Regions from separate parts of the Homo sapiens genome. Here region 2 is linked to region 1. Evidence: fine-mapped expression QTL. Tissue or cell type: whole blood. Region 1 holds a variant in brackets; the other region holds the start of a gene. All regions are shown on one strand. Distances are from middle to middle.

What was found. PIP is the estimated chance that this variant, and not a neighbour inherited with it, causes the effect.
Region 2: it holds the start of EPHX1, and the variant in region 1 is fine-mapped to the expression of EPHX1 in whole blood (TOPMed, PIP above 0.99).

Annotation. Positions count from the first base shown.
Region 1 is chr1:225,888,559-225,896,715 of GRCh38, reverse strand. LEFTY1 (left-right determination factor 1) reads left to right here and starts at 7,570. Exons shown (of 4, transcript NM_020997.4): 1 at 7,570-7,899. The coding sequence starts at 7,650. RefSeq lists enhancers at 1-449, 4,550-5,265, 5,266-5,983, 5,984-6,701 and a silencer at 5,233-5,527. The variant G/C (reference allele first, on the strand shown) is at 4,034.
Region 2 is chr1:225,807,793-225,814,592 of GRCh38, reverse strand. EPHX1 (epoxide hydrolase 1) reads right to left here and starts at 4,469. Exons shown (of 9, transcript NM_001136018.4): 1 at 4,424-4,469. RefSeq lists a silencer at 4,292-4,511.

The DNA of each region.
Region 1 (8,157 bases):
CAATGTTCTGCTTGTGACATTTGCCAATGTTGTAGACAGTTTCGGTTCATTTTCTTTGCCATAAAGTATTCCATAAGACTATACTACATTTTATTTGTGCTTTACAGTGTCGATGGATATTTTTGGTGAGTTGCTTCAGTTTGGACTCTTATAAACAATGCTGCTGTATCATCAATCTTATGCATGCATTTCTGTCCAACTGAATGAAATGACTGTGCCTTTTTTCTTTCTTTTTTTTTTTTTTTTTGAAATGGAGTCTCACTCTCTTGCCCAGGCTGGAAGTGCAGTGGCGTGATCTCGGCTCACGGCAACCTCTGTGCCCCACCCCGCCACGGGGGTTCAAGTGATTCTTCTGCCTCAGCCTCCCGAGTAGCTGGGATTACAGGTGCCCATCGCCACACCCAGCTAATTTTTGTAATTTTAGTAGAGATGGACTTTCACCATGTTGGCCATGCTGGTCACGGACTCCTGACCTCAGGTGATTGGCCCACCTCGGCCTCCCAAATTGCTGTGATTAGCGGCGTGAGCCACTGTGCCCGGCCCCTTTTTTGTTTTTAAGAGACAGGGTCTCGCTCTATTGCCCAGGCTGCTGTATTGCAGTGGTGCAATCATGGCTCATTGCAGCCTCGAACTCCTGGGCTCAAGCAATCCTGCCACCTCAGCCTCCCGAGTAGCTGGGAGTACTACAGGTGTGTGCCACCATGCCTGGCTGATTTTTTTTATAGTAGAGATGAGGTCTTGCTATGTTGCCCAGGCTGGTCTTGAACTCCTGGCCTGAAGCCATCCTCATACCTCAGCATCCCAAAGTGTTGGGATTATAGGCATGAGCCGTGGTGCCTGGCCATTGGGTCTTAAGTTTACCTGGTATCTTGAACTGTAGTAAATACTGCCAAGTTCTCTAGTGTGGTGTAGCACTTTACGCTCTCACCAGTGATATCTGAGAGTTCTCACTGCTCCAGATATTCATCAAATTGGTTTTACTCAACATCCATTATATTATTATTATTATTATTATTATTATTATTATTATTTAGAAATAGGGTCTCACTCTGTCACCCAGACTGGAGTGCAGTGGCACAATCATAGCTCACTGCAGCCTTAAACTCCTGGGTTCAAGTGATCCTCCTGTCTTAGCCTCCTGAGTAGCTAAGTGCACACCACCACACCTAATTTAAAAATGTTTTTGTAGAGATGGGGTCTTGCTATGTTGCCCAGGCTGGTCTTGAACTCCTGGCCTCAAGCAATCCTTCTGCCTTGGACTCTCAAAGTGCTAGGATTTAAGGCATGAGCCACCATGCTTGGCCCGTTCTCGATTTTTTTTTTTTTTTTTTTTTGAGATGGAGTCTTGCCCTGTCGCCCAGGCTGGAATGCAGTGGTGCGATCTTGGCTCACTGCAACCTCCGCCTCCTGGGTTCAAGCAATTCTCCTGCCCAGCCTCCCAAGTAGCTGGGATCACAGGCGTGCGCCACTACACCCAGTTAATTTTTGTATTTTTAGTAGACACGGGGTCTCACTACGTTCGTCAGGCTGGTCTCGAGCTCTTGACCTCGTGATGCGCCCGCCTCGGCCTCCCAAAGTGCTGGGATTACAGGTGGGAGCCACCGCGCCCAGCCCGTTCTTGATTTTTAAAAAATTCTATTATGGATACTTCGTTAACATGATAAAATGTATTTAGCTCAACCGTAAAGCTCATACTCAATGGGGAAATAGTAAAGGAGTCCTATTAAAACCAGGACAAAACAATGCTATCCATTATCATCACTTTTATTGAATATTGTTCTAGAAAAACTACTAAATGGAGTTAGACAATAGAAAAAAAAATTCCAGAGGAATAAACTTTGAAAAAGAGGAATTAAATTATTAGTAGCAAATATTAAGATTTTGTACCTAGAAAATGCAAGAAATCAACTAAGAACTGTTAGGTACAATAAGAAGTTCCAGTAAAGTCTTCTATGCACCAATTTTGAACTCACTTTACTGGAATGTCTTATTGTTTGTAAGAAGTTTGAAGAGGACTTCTATGTACCAATTGGTACCACAGCCTGAAATCTTCAGGCTGGGCACAGTGGCTCATGCCTGTAATCCCAGCACTTTGGGAGGCCTAGGCGGGTGGATCACTTGAGGTCAGGAGTTCAAGACCATGAAAACCTGTCTCTACTAAAAATAAAAAATAGCCAGGTGTGGTGGTGTGTGCCAGTAATCCCAGCTACTCAGAGGCTGAGGCAGGAGAATCACTTGAACCTGGGAGGTGGAGGTGGCAGTGAGCAGAGATCGTGCCACTACACTCCAGCCTGGGCGACAGAGCGACTCTGTCTCAAAAAAAGAAAAAGAAAAAGAAATCAAGTCTTTAATGACACAAATAACACTTAAGCAGTGTGATGGTATAAAAAAATCCCATCTTCAATACAAATGAAAAGCAAACTACCCAGGAGTTGATTTAACAAGTTATTTATAAGATGTTTTAACAAGTTATATGTAAGACATAAGACAAACCATGAGGAAAGGCAAACTGTGTTCTTAGATGAGAAAATGCCAGTGCTTCCTAATCTGTGAATTTAACATAATTCAATAAAAACATTAGAGTATGACAAAAAAAAAAAACAGCATAAACAAAGTATAAAACACAAATTATACATGGGAGAAATATTTGCAATGCATATAACAGAGAAAAGGCTAATGTCCCTGATATATAAAGTGTCTACATATCAATAAGAAAAAACAACTCAGTAGAAAATTGACACAAGGTATGAACAAACAGTTCTCAAAAACAGAAATATAAGCTGAGCATGATGGCACACACCTATGTTCCCGGCTTCTCCAGAGGTTGAGACAGGAGAATTACTTGCACCCAGGAGTTCGAGACCAGTCTGGGCAACACGGCAAGACTTCCTCTTTACAAAGCATAAAAAATTTTGGCTGGGCACGGTGGCTCATGCCTGTAATCCCAGCACTTTGAAGGGGCGGAGATGGGCAGATCATCTGAGGTCAGGAGTTCGAGGCCAGCCTGGCCAACCTGGTGAAACCCCATTTCTACTAAAAATACAAAAATTAGCCGGGCGTGGTGGTGGGCACCTGTAATCCCAGCTACTTGGGAGGCTAAGACAGCAGAACCTCTTGAACCCTGGAGGAGGAAAATCTCTTGAACCTGGGAGGTGGAGGTTGCAGTGAGCCGAGATCCTGCCACTGCACTCCAGCCTAGGCAACACAGTGAGACTCTATCTCAAAATAATAATAATAATAATTCAGCTGGGTGTGGTGGTGCACATCTGTGGTTCCAGTTACTCGGGAGACTGAGGCGGGAGGATCCTTTGAGCCCAAGAGGTTGAGGCTGCAATGAGCTGAGATGGCACCACTGCACTCCAGGCTGAGCAACAGAGTGAGACCTTGTCTCAAAAAATAAATAAATAAAAATAAAATAAAAATGTGCAGATGAGGAACAAAAAGAGACTGACATTCTTCCATATTCCCTTTCCTATCTTTTGAAAGTTGTGCTATTTGTATTAATTACAAACAAAAACAAAAACAAGGCCGGGCGCGGTGGCTCAAGCCTGTAATCCCAGCACTTTGGGAGGGGGAGACGTGCGGATCACGAGGTCAGGAGATCCAGACCATCCTGGCTAACATGGTGAAACCCCGTCTCTACTAAAAATACAAAAAAATTAGCCGGGCGCGGTGGCGGGTGCCTGTAGTCCCAGCTACTCGGGAGGCTGAGGCAGGAGAATGGCGTGAACCCGGAAGGCGAAGCTTGCAGTGAGCCGAGATTGTGCCACTGCACTCCAGCCTGGGCGACAGAGCGAGACTCCATCTCAAGAAAAAAAACAAAAAACAAAACAAAACAAAACCAAAAAAATTCAGTTTCAACACCAGAGGACAAAAAAGAAAAAGGAAACAAAATAAAAAGAAAAAAAGAAAAGAAAAAAGAAAAAAAAGAAACAATGTTAACACACAATTTAAAAAATTTAAACATTTAAAAAATTACTAACAGTATAAGAGACTCCTACTATTTATTGGTCACCTAGTGTGTACCAAGAGG[G/C]TGTGCTAGGCACCCTGTAGACATCTCAATTAATACAAACACTGCAAGAAAAATACATTATTCCCATTTTATAGGTGGAAACGTATTGTATTGAAGAATGTGGAAAACCTGCCAGTGGCTGGGTGTGGTAGCTCACACCTGTAATCCTAGCACTTTGGGAAGCCAAGGCAGGAGAATGGCTTGAAGCCAAGAGTTCAAGACCAACTTGGCCAACATAGTGAGACCCCCGTCTCAGAAAAAAAAATTTAAAAATATGACAGGGCGCGGTGGCTCATGCTTGCAATCCCAGAAGTTTGGGAGGCCGAGGTGGGCAGATCACCTGAGGTCAGGAGTTTGGGACCAGACTGGCCAACATGGTGAAACCCCCGTCTCTACTAAAAATACAAAAAAATTAGCCAGGCATGGTGGCGGGTGCCTGTAATCCCAGCTACTCGGGAGGCTGAGGCAGGAGAATCTCTTGAACCCAGGAGGCGGAGGTTGCAGTAAGCCAAGATCACACCATTGCACTCCAGGCTGGGCAACAAGAGCGAAACTCCATCTCAAAAAATAAATAAATAAATAAATAAGAATAATATTAAAAAATTAATTTGAAAAAGTAAAAGAAAACCTGCCAGAGGCCACACAGCTAGTAAATGTGAGTGGCATAGCAAGGTTTGAACTCACTCTTGCCAAGAAGGGTGTCATGTTGGACCCCCAAGCAGGCAAGCTGGGAGGGCACCACCTTGGAGAGACCAAAGAAAAGACCCAGAGACAGCAGGCAAGACATGAGCTTTATTCAAGGGACTTACGCACAGGGGGAAGTCCAGGAGCGGCAGGCTGGACAGGAGCAACCGCTGCCATTTGTGAAAAGTGTGCAGGTCATGTAGAAACCTTCACATTGCAACATTTGTTTGTTTGGTTGGCTTTTTTTGAGACAGGGTCTCACTCTGTCGCCCAGGCTGGAGCGCAGTGGTGCAATCTCGGCTCACTGCAACCTCTGCCTCACAGGTTCAAGCGCATCTCCTGTCTCAGCCTCCTGACTAGCTGGGACTACAGGCGTCTGCCACCAAGCCCAGGTAATTTTTGTATTTTTAGTAGAGTCGAGGTTTTGCCATGTTGGCCAGGCTAGGCTCCAATTCCTGACCTCAAGTGATCCGCCCACCTTGGCCTCCCAGAGTGCTGGGATTATAGGCGTGAGCCACCACGCCCAGCCCAAAACCACATTGCAACTTCCATCTAGCAACCTCTACTTAGCAGCCTCCACCTACCTCAAAACAATGGACCTCTGTTCCTTGTACAGCCTGTGTTCCAAGTAACAGGCCAGGGGCCTGACATTCTTCATAGTTAAACATAATTAAACATCCAGGTTGGCCGTTCCCACGGTCCATAGCCTGGAACACTGAACAAACATCACCAAGGGACAAAGGGTCCTTCCCAGGCCATGCTTGAGTTGTTGCTGTCTGGCAAGATGTGCCCACCACACAAAGGTGCTGGATGAACTGAAACGGGTCCCTATTCCTGGTTTGTTTCCCACCCTCCTCAGCCCAGACAGAGCCCCAGGGAAGGACCCCTGATGATGCCAGAGTCTGAGCTACTTTGGGAGAACAGGAAGTGCCCACACAGGGGGTGCCTGGAACCACCAAGGAGCCACATGGGCCCCCAGGCCTGGGGTCAGGGAGGTTGATGGTGTGGGTTGGGGCAGCCCAGGACACCTGGACTGGCCTTGGGGCATTTCCTGAGCACTCTCAGAAGTATCTGCCCCTGCCCAGGAAGGGGGCAAAAGCCACCCTGGAGACCCTAGATGCTGGGCTCTGACTTAGAAGCCACTCCACTCCTGGACTCTTAGCTTTGCTGACGTCAGAGCCCAGGCCTGAGTCCAGCTCATCCCCATCCATGGAGGCCCCAGGATGACCTCTGACCCCCATGTTTTCCCATGGCTCTCACTTGGCAACCTGGCCTCTGGTTGGGGTCACATCCTGGCCCACCAGGGGCAGGAGGGTGTTCGAGGGCAAAGGGCCCCACTCCTCATCCACCCTCCTACCTGGGCCCCCTCCCCCTCTCCCCAGTATGGCCAGACCACTGCCCTCCAGTGCCCTTAGCTCTGGGCCGAGGGCCAGGTCCAAATGTGCTCTGAGTCAGGGTAGGGATCACTCATTCCCTTGCCCCGCTCTCCTCCCTTAGATAGAAGATCTGGTTCTGGGGCCACTTTACCATCTCAAGCCCAATCTGGGCAGACCCAGGTGGGGATGGTTGGGGAAGCCAGGCTCCGTCTTCTGCATGACAAAGGGTGGGGCTGCCCTCCCTCCTGGCAACACTTCAGACCATTGTAAACAGTCTCCCAATCCACATTTGTTTTATTTTTCGTTGTCAGATCTAGCAAATAAAAATATAGGACTCTGGTGAAATTTGAATGTCAGGTAGACAATGAATAATTTTTTTGGTATAATTATGTCCCAAATAGTGCCTTGTATTTTATCTGGTAGCCCTACCCCTGGCTGATCACCCAAATGTTTTATTTCCCCAGCAAAACTCTTCAACCAGCTTACAAATCCACATTCAGGATAGGGGTCCTCTGTCTTGGGGGATTGTCCCCCTGCCCCAGCCTAGACCTGATCACCTGGATTGAGACCACCTGGCTCCCTTTAGGGCATAGATCAAAACTAGGCTGTAAATAATTTGAGTGTGCCAAGAACTTTGTGAATTGCAAGACCTGACTTTATATGGACATTGATCATTAACTTTGTGAGCTTCGGGAAGTTGACACCTCTGAGCCTCGGTTTTTTTTCAGCTCAAAAATTGGGAGAGGTTGCCGTGAGCCGAGACTGCGCCATTGTACTCCAGCCTGGGCAACAAGAATGAAACTCTGTCTCAAAAGAAAAAAAAATTGGGGGAGAAGGTAGCCTGGATATTCCTTTCAACTCTAAACTCTAATTCTGTGAACAGCAGGGATGAGGGAGAGGATGAGGCTCCTTCCTTATTGGACAAAACCCCGTTGGAACTAAATGCTCCTAGGCTCCCTTGCCTAGGAAGGTCCCCCCAGAACAGTGGGAAATCTGGTTTCACAACTGGGGACCACCAGCTCAGGATCTCATGAGGCCCCGGGACCCTCTGAGCACGGGCCCGGATGCTCATCCCTGCAGACTGGATTGGCCCTTAGAGCCCTGGCGTTGCCTGAGCCATTCTGGTTCCTGTCAGTTGTTTGGTTGCAGCAAGGAACAAGACTCTAGGTCCACTTACCAGCAGCTGGGGGAACTGAGCCTCTTGCAGAGAACGAGAGCCCCACCTCTACTCTAGGAAATGAGCTTTTTAATTTAACTGGTCAGGCCTCAACCCACATTAGGGGTTCATGACCATTGTATAGACAGCTGTAGCCAGCTGTTCACAGCCCAGACAGACTTGCCCTATCTAGACAGCCCCCTCCTCCCAGCTCAGGGACTCGTCTGGCTGTGAGCTTCCAGGAGGTCTCAGGGGTGTGACCTCCCTCCCTCCTTCCCTCCCCACTCCCTACCTCCTCCCTCCACCCCAGGCTATAAAGCTGCCCAGGCTTGGCTCTCAGCACATCCAGCTGCCTGAGACCCTCCTGCAGCCTTCTCAAGGGACAGCCCCACTCTGCCTCTTGCTCCTCCAGGGCAGCACCATGCAGCCCCTGTGGCTCTGCTGGGCACTCTGGGTGTTGCCCCTGGCCAGCCCCGGGGCCGCCCTGACCGGGGAGCAGCTCCTGGGCAGCCTGCTGCGGCAGCTGCAGCTCAAAGAGGTGCCCACCCTGGACAGGGCCGACATGGAGGAGCTGGTCATCCCCACCCACGTGAGGGCCCAGTACGTGGCCCTGCTGCAGCGCAGCCACGGGGACCGCTCCCGCGGAAAGAGGTTCAGCCAGAGCTTCCGAGGTGAGGCCCTCCCTCCCTGCTGCCCCTGGTCCCATGGGGCAGGTCAGATGTGCCCACTCCGGTGGTGTCAAAGGGCTCCTGGCCTTGCAGAGGTCTGTGGGAGGCTGAGTGAGGGCCACGGTCTAAGGGGCAGTGAGGTGGGGCCGGGCCTGTGAGGATGGCGGGGCCTCAGCATGCAGCGGTGCATGCAGTCAGGACTCCGGGGGTCTGTTTTCGTACTGCCACTCTGGTCTGAGTTCTACTTGGAGCATATTGCTT
Region 2 (6,800 bases), 81 kb after region 1:
GTCACAGTCCAGGCTGCTCCTGGACTAAAGCCAGCCAGGCGGGCCCGTGGCAGAGACACTCAGAACACGGCCTAGACTTCAGGATGTGTCTGGGCACCCCCAACCGCTGTGAGGAAGGCTAGAGAAGCCCTGAGCTGTGACACTGGGGTGGGAAGACTTAAACACACCATCTCCCATACTACAACCATCTTAAGAAGAGGTAGTTTTTCTTTTTAAAAATTATTTGAGACAGGGTCTCGCTATGTTGCCCAGGGTGGTCTTGAACTCTTGGGCTCAAGAGATCCTCCTGCCTCAGCTTCCTAAAGTGCTGGGATTACAGGTGTGCTCCACCACTCCCAGCTAATTTATTCTTTATAGAGACGAGGTCTCACTTTGTTGCCCAGGCTGGTCTCAGAACTCCTGGGCTCAAGTGATCCACCCACCTCAGCTTCCCAAAATGCTGGGATTACAGGTGTGCGCCATCTTGCCCAGCCACTTTTTCTGTTTTAAAAAGAATTAAAAATGAAGCTCAGATATGTGAAGTAGTTAATCCAGCTCTTAAGTACCAAAAAGACATTCAAATTCAGTCTCTATTCATCAAACTTCCCAAATGCTAAAGGCAGCAAAAACTCCTGCTCCCGACCTAAGAACAAGGCCTGTGATCCTAGTTTGTGGAGTAGCTGGAGAATTTTCCAGAAGTCTCTTTAACTCCTCAGAGAAAAGAACACTTTCCCCTCTTCTGCAAGCTTGCTCAGTTAGGCCTTGGAGAGCCTAATGGGTGTGGCTGTGCGGGGGCTGGACCATGCACTAAACCACACCCACCCACCAGGCAACAGACGGAAAGACACAGACAGCAGGGCGGGTGGGCATGAGGACTCCACACCAGGTCTCTGAACCCATCTCCTGGAATGCCGTAGGTCAGGCTGTGGCAGTCAAATGGCTGCTTTCTGCTGAGAAAGGATGAACTATGACTTCCCCTGGGAAAGTAAATAAACCTTGACAATAGGGGAGGCTGCTCAGTGTGAGCTTGGTTTGCACAATCGTGTGCTCAGTTATATAACGGAGGATTGGATTGCGCAGTTTTCTCCTTGTTGAGAGGAAGCTCTTCCTGGAGCGCCCACCAGCTCCTCCCTCCTCAGGAGAGGGGTGTGGCTGGATCCTTGGCAACGCTTTGGTCCCCTAACGGGGGAACTGCTGGGGTGCCTTCTCCCTCCTGCAATCCCCACCTTATCCCACAGCCCCTTGGAGACTCTGCTCCTAAGCCACTAGGTCTGGGTCAAGAACCACACACAGGCAGCCCAGGGGGCCAGCTGGGCTGGGCAGTGACCCTCCTGCCTTGACTCAGGGCTCTTGAACTCTTAAGATTTTGCCTCCCCTACCCTGTGGCCAGGGCCTTCACTCTAGTTGAAGTGTCTTCACTGGACCCAGCAGAGGCTACAGGGCCCACTGAGTCCCTTCAAAACTTACTGTTTCCCTCCTACACATTCCTTTCCTGAAATCCCTTCAGACTTTGCCACAGAATCATCACATAGCAGAGCTGCAAGAAGGCCTGCAGATCGCTGAGCCTAACCTCATTTTACAGATGAGGTCCAGAGAGGGGACACATTAATGGCAGAGCTGGGACATGAGCCAAGTCTTTTTTCCAGCCCAATCCTCTTCCCACATCACTGTATTACCTCTCAAAGGAATGAATTGCTGTTGATGGGATTTATGGCCCTAGCAGAGGTGGGTTTTCAGTATGAGATCCTAGGCACCCCTCGAATCACTATCTGTCTATCCCATCTGTGCCCACTCTGTCCCCGAGTGGGTGGGCTTCGAGCTACTTCTTCAGCAGGGGTGACCAGCTCATGCTTGGTCCTCCCTTATTTGGTACACCCAGCTGTGATCCATGTGGTTGAACCTCTTGGCGTAAGAACTGAGAAATGAATCTCGGTAGCCCCTGCTTTCACATGTCTGGGCCTGGGCCAAGATACCAGAACGGGAATCAAGGTGCCAGGTGAGCAATCACCAAGCCTGGGTATCAGGTCGACAGGAGGGGCACTGTGCATTGGTGAACCTGGGCTCCCTGAAAATGCCAGTTATGCTTAAGACATCAGGCAGGAACCAGGACACCCCAGGAGAGTCACTCCACCTCCTGCAGTGGTCAAGATGCCCTTTCTGCAAAGGTCCCTCTGCCCACAGAGCCCTCATTCAGGGCTTCCTGAAGATGTTCCCAGCCGCGTAAGTCCATGCCAGCTAGTGTGCTTCAGGCACAGCTGAGAGGCAGGAGGCATCACGCAGAGAGCATGTGGCTTGTCACAGATGGTGCTGAGGTTCACCCTGGCTGTCTTGCTGAGTAGTTATTTTCTGTGGAAGGTCCTTCCTTTCCTGGAATTGGGAAGAAGGCCGCAGAAAGCTCAGGAGTCCCCTCACTTACAGACTGAGCTAGTTCAGTTTATCCAGTAGGTCACTCATCAGCTTGACCCACACTCTGCAAACACAAACATCAGGCCATTCAAGCTGGGCACACTCCTGCCCCCAGCCTTTGCACCTGCACCCCAGGCAGCAGCTTGGCTGCTCCCTAACTCTTCAGGTCTATGCCAGTGCCACCCTTCAGTGAGGCCTTCCCTTTCCACCTGGCACTCCTCTCCCCTCTTTAAAGTTTTATTTATCTCCATATTACACATCATCTTCTAACATACTTTATAGTTTACAAATGTATTTTGTTTATTATCCCTCTGCCCCTAGAACTGCAAATCCCACGAGGGCATGCTCCCCGCTGTGCCTCAGTTCCACAGTGAGCAGTTCCTAAGTACCGCCCATGCCTCCTCAGCGCCTCCTAGGTGTGGAAATTTGGGAAAGAAAAACTGCTTGGAGAGCACTCGCAGAGTTTTTGCTGCTAAGTCAGACCAAGTGGGGCCAGTGAAAGGCCCCCTATTATCCCCCAAACCTAGCTCCCTGAAGGAGGCAACCGTTACACCAGAAAACAATGTTACTTTCTGGAGAAGTGTGGCTTCCTGAAAATGTTTATTTTAAATTATGCTGGATGCAGAGGAGGCTGCACAGTGGTACCGAAACAGCCACCAACCCCAAGGTCCTCAACAATTTTCCACCAACAGCTCATCAATCCCAGCAAAGGGCTGTCCTGGAAGCGGGCCTGCCAAGTGCATGGGTCCCCCTCACCTCCCACCTCCAGCCACAAGCTGAGCCCTCACAGAACTTCCAGGACAACGAGTGTTGCCTGTAGGGGCGGATCCAGGCTTTGCGGAACCTGAAGTTTAAACAATGGGAGGTGGGCTATGGAGGGGGCATTCAACTTTAAGAAAAAAAAGTCAAAATTAGGATTACAACATTGCTAGGCACCCCACCTCCAAGATCTCGGGAGCCGCCAGGGCAAGGAAGGAGCCAGAAGCTCAGAGAAAACCGACATCTGCCAGGGAGGGAGGCAGGCGGCCACTCGGTCTCCGCGGCGCTTTTGCTCAGGTTGACCACATTCCCTGGCTTCAACTACAAGGTGAACTCCCGGGCAAGTTTCCTGTTCTACAAGAGGAGAGGGCTGGCCTTCAATCCCGAGACCAGAGCGAGGGGGTGCCGGGCGGCGGCTGCGGCAGCAGATGGAGATGAAAGCGCATTTCAACTAAAAGGTGTGATCAGTGTCAGGCCTCTGAGCCGAAGCTAAGCCATCATATCCCCTGTGGCCTGCACCTACACATCCAGATGGCCGGTTCCTGCCTTAACTGATGTCATTCCACCACAAAAGTGAAAATGACCTGTTCCTGCCTTAACTGATGACATTGTCTTGTGAAATTCCTTCTCCTGGCTCATCCTGGCTCAAAAGCTCCCCTACTGAGCACCTTGTGACCCCCCCCACTCTGCCCGCCAGAGAACCCCCCTTTGACTGTAATTTTCCTTTACCTACCCAAATCCTATAAAACGGCCCCACCCCTATCTCCCTTGGCTGACTCTTTTCGGACTCAGCCCGCCTGCACCCAGGTGAAATAAACAGCCATGTTGCTCACACAAAGCCTGTTTGGTGGTCTCTTCACACGGACGCGCATGAAAATCAGTGTTCCGACTTGGGTGACAAATTAAGTGCATTTCACCGCCGAGCGAGCCACGGCCCTGGAAGCAGAGCTCGCCCAGGCCAGGGGACGCGGTGCGCTCTCGGGGTCGCGAGCCTCCCTCCCTGCGGCGTCCGCCCACAGTCTGGGACGCGGAATTCCCTGCGAGAAGTCCGCGGTCGCCTGCAGGCTCCTTCCCCCAGTAGGCGGCACGCGCAGTCTCCTGGCCGGGGCAGGAGCTGGGGGCGGACCAACTACAAGTCCCTCTGCACCCCTGCGGGCCGACCGCAGCCCCGACCCCTCGGCGCCCCGGCCCGCCGCCCACCCCGGCGGCCGAGCCCGCGCGGAGCCCGAACCGCGTCTGCGTCCGGGGAGTGCGGGCCCGGCCGGCCCCGGGCGCTTACGGTCTCGGCTCGCAGGCTCCGGCGGCGGCAGGCGCGCGATCTCTCCGGCTCCCTGGCTCTCCTCGGCTAGTTTTCAGCAGCCCCGGCGCAGTCTCCGCCCAAGCCCGGCCTCCGAGCGGGGCGTTCCCCGGCCTGGAGGACCCGGGAAAGTCTCTAGGCCTGCCTAAGGCTCCACCTCTGCCAGGGATAAAACGGGCTACTTAAAGGGCGGTCCGCGGCCCCGCGGCCAGAAATGGAGAGAAGCGTTTGGCAGCTCCTACAGCAGTTTGATCCCGTAACTTCGTCAGTTGAATCTAAAAACAAAAATCCAAACTTGCATGATGTATGTCCTTTTTTTTTTTGGAGACAGAGTCTCACTCTATCACCCAGGCTGGAGTGCAGTGGTGCGATCTCGGCTCACTGCAGCCTCAAGCGATCCTCCCACTTCGGCCTCCAGAATAGCTGGGACTACAGACTGCGCCACCACACCTGGCTAATTTTTTAAGTTTTGTAGATACGGGGGTCTCACTTTGTTGCCTAGGCTGATCTTGAACTCCTGGGCTCAAGCGATGCACCTACCTCCGCCTCCCAAAGTGGTGAGATTATGGGCGTGAGCCACTGCACCTGGCGGTGTATGTCTTTTTAATTTCATCTTTCTAGCAATTCATTCTTAGTATATTTAACAAACATATTGGTCCGTGACATGCTTGGAAATCTAAAAACAAATTAGTGTCTTTATACAGAGAATGTGAGAAGCAATGGTCTGAAGCACTCTTGGGGGTCTTCATGGTGAGGACCAGTATAGGATGCTGAGTTCAATGCCAGGGGAGCAACCTCTTAGTGAATCCCCTCCCGCTTTGGAGAGAGCTCAGGGCCCAGGCGGGTGGTTGCTGGGGCTCTTTTAGCTTCCGTGAGAGCGTTGATCCCCAGCCCCTCATCGTTAGAAAGCCTGTCCCATCGCCTCTGCCATCACCCCTCCTTAGCTTCTCTCTTCACCTGCTCAGAGGTGCAGTTCTTTCAACCACCAGCATCCTCACGATCTCGGTGGACAGACTACAGCTAGGAGGCCACATGCAGGGCCCGTGGCTGGAGTTCTAAGCTTCTGACTGTCACCTTGCACACTTCAGGATAAGGTTCACCACCACCCACCTTCCCTTGGCCTCCAACCTTTCTGCTCACCCTGGCCCAAGAATTCTGGCCGGCAGACGCACTCACCTCACTCCCACCTCCAAACTTTTGCTCTTGCAGTACTGCCGGACAGGGTGCCCTCCTCCATCCACATGTAGAGTCCTCTTGTCCTTTAATTCTACACCCTCCTATAAAAGCTTTCTCTTGCAACTGCAGTCTCTGACATCTCTGTATTCCTTTCAGAACCTGCAGTCTGGGAGAGTTCTTTCCCCTCCCCTCCAAATAGTTCACACAGAAGCTCTGCCTCTGGCCACTTCACCAGGGGACCCAAATTCGTTACTCTTAAAACTGCAGTGATGGTGAAACAGGTAGGAGTCAGGACTTAACGCCAGAGGTGGGGCTTGGACACCAGATTGAGGACCAAATTGAGGACTAGCTAAAACAGGGACTGGGTGGAAGATGAGCATAAGATATGCCCATCATATCAGTGTGCCATGTCAGTTTACCAGGGCACGCCCCTGGAGTTATCACCCCCCTTCCATGGCAATGACCCGAGGACCCAAAAGTTACTACCCTTTTCCTAGAAATGTCTGCATAAACTGCCCCTTAATCTGCATGTAACTAAAAGTGGGTATCAACATGACTGCAGAATCGCCCAGAGCTGCTGCTCTCAGCACACTGCCTGTGGGGCAGCCCTGCACTGCAGGAGCAGGCCCCCTCTGCTGCTGCTGGACACCGCCACCTCCATAAAAGTTGCTGTCTCACACCACGGGCTCTCTCTTGAATTCTTTCCTGGACAAAGCTAAAAACCCTGCTGGGCTGAGACCCAATCTGGGGTCTCAGCTGCCCTGCATCAAAACTCTTCTAAAATTAGATATTGGTGATGGTTACATCACTACAAGTCTGTAAATATACCAAAACCCGTGAAATTTTACACTCTTAAAGGGTGAGTTTTATGGGTATGTGAATTATGTCTCAATACAGTTGTTATTTTATTTATTTATTTGTTTGTTTTTGAGATACAGTCTCACTCTGTTGCCCAGGTTGGAGCGCAATGGCACAATCTCGGCTCACTGCAACCTCCGCCTCCCAGGTTCAAGTGATCCTCGTGCCTCAGCCTCCCAAGCCGCTGGAATTACAGGCACTTGCCACCACACCCAGCTAATTTTTGTATTTTTAGTAGAGATGGGGTTTCACCATGTTGGCCAGGTGGGTCTCAAACTCCTGACCTCAAGTGATTTGCCTGCCCTGGCCTCCCAAAGTACTGGGA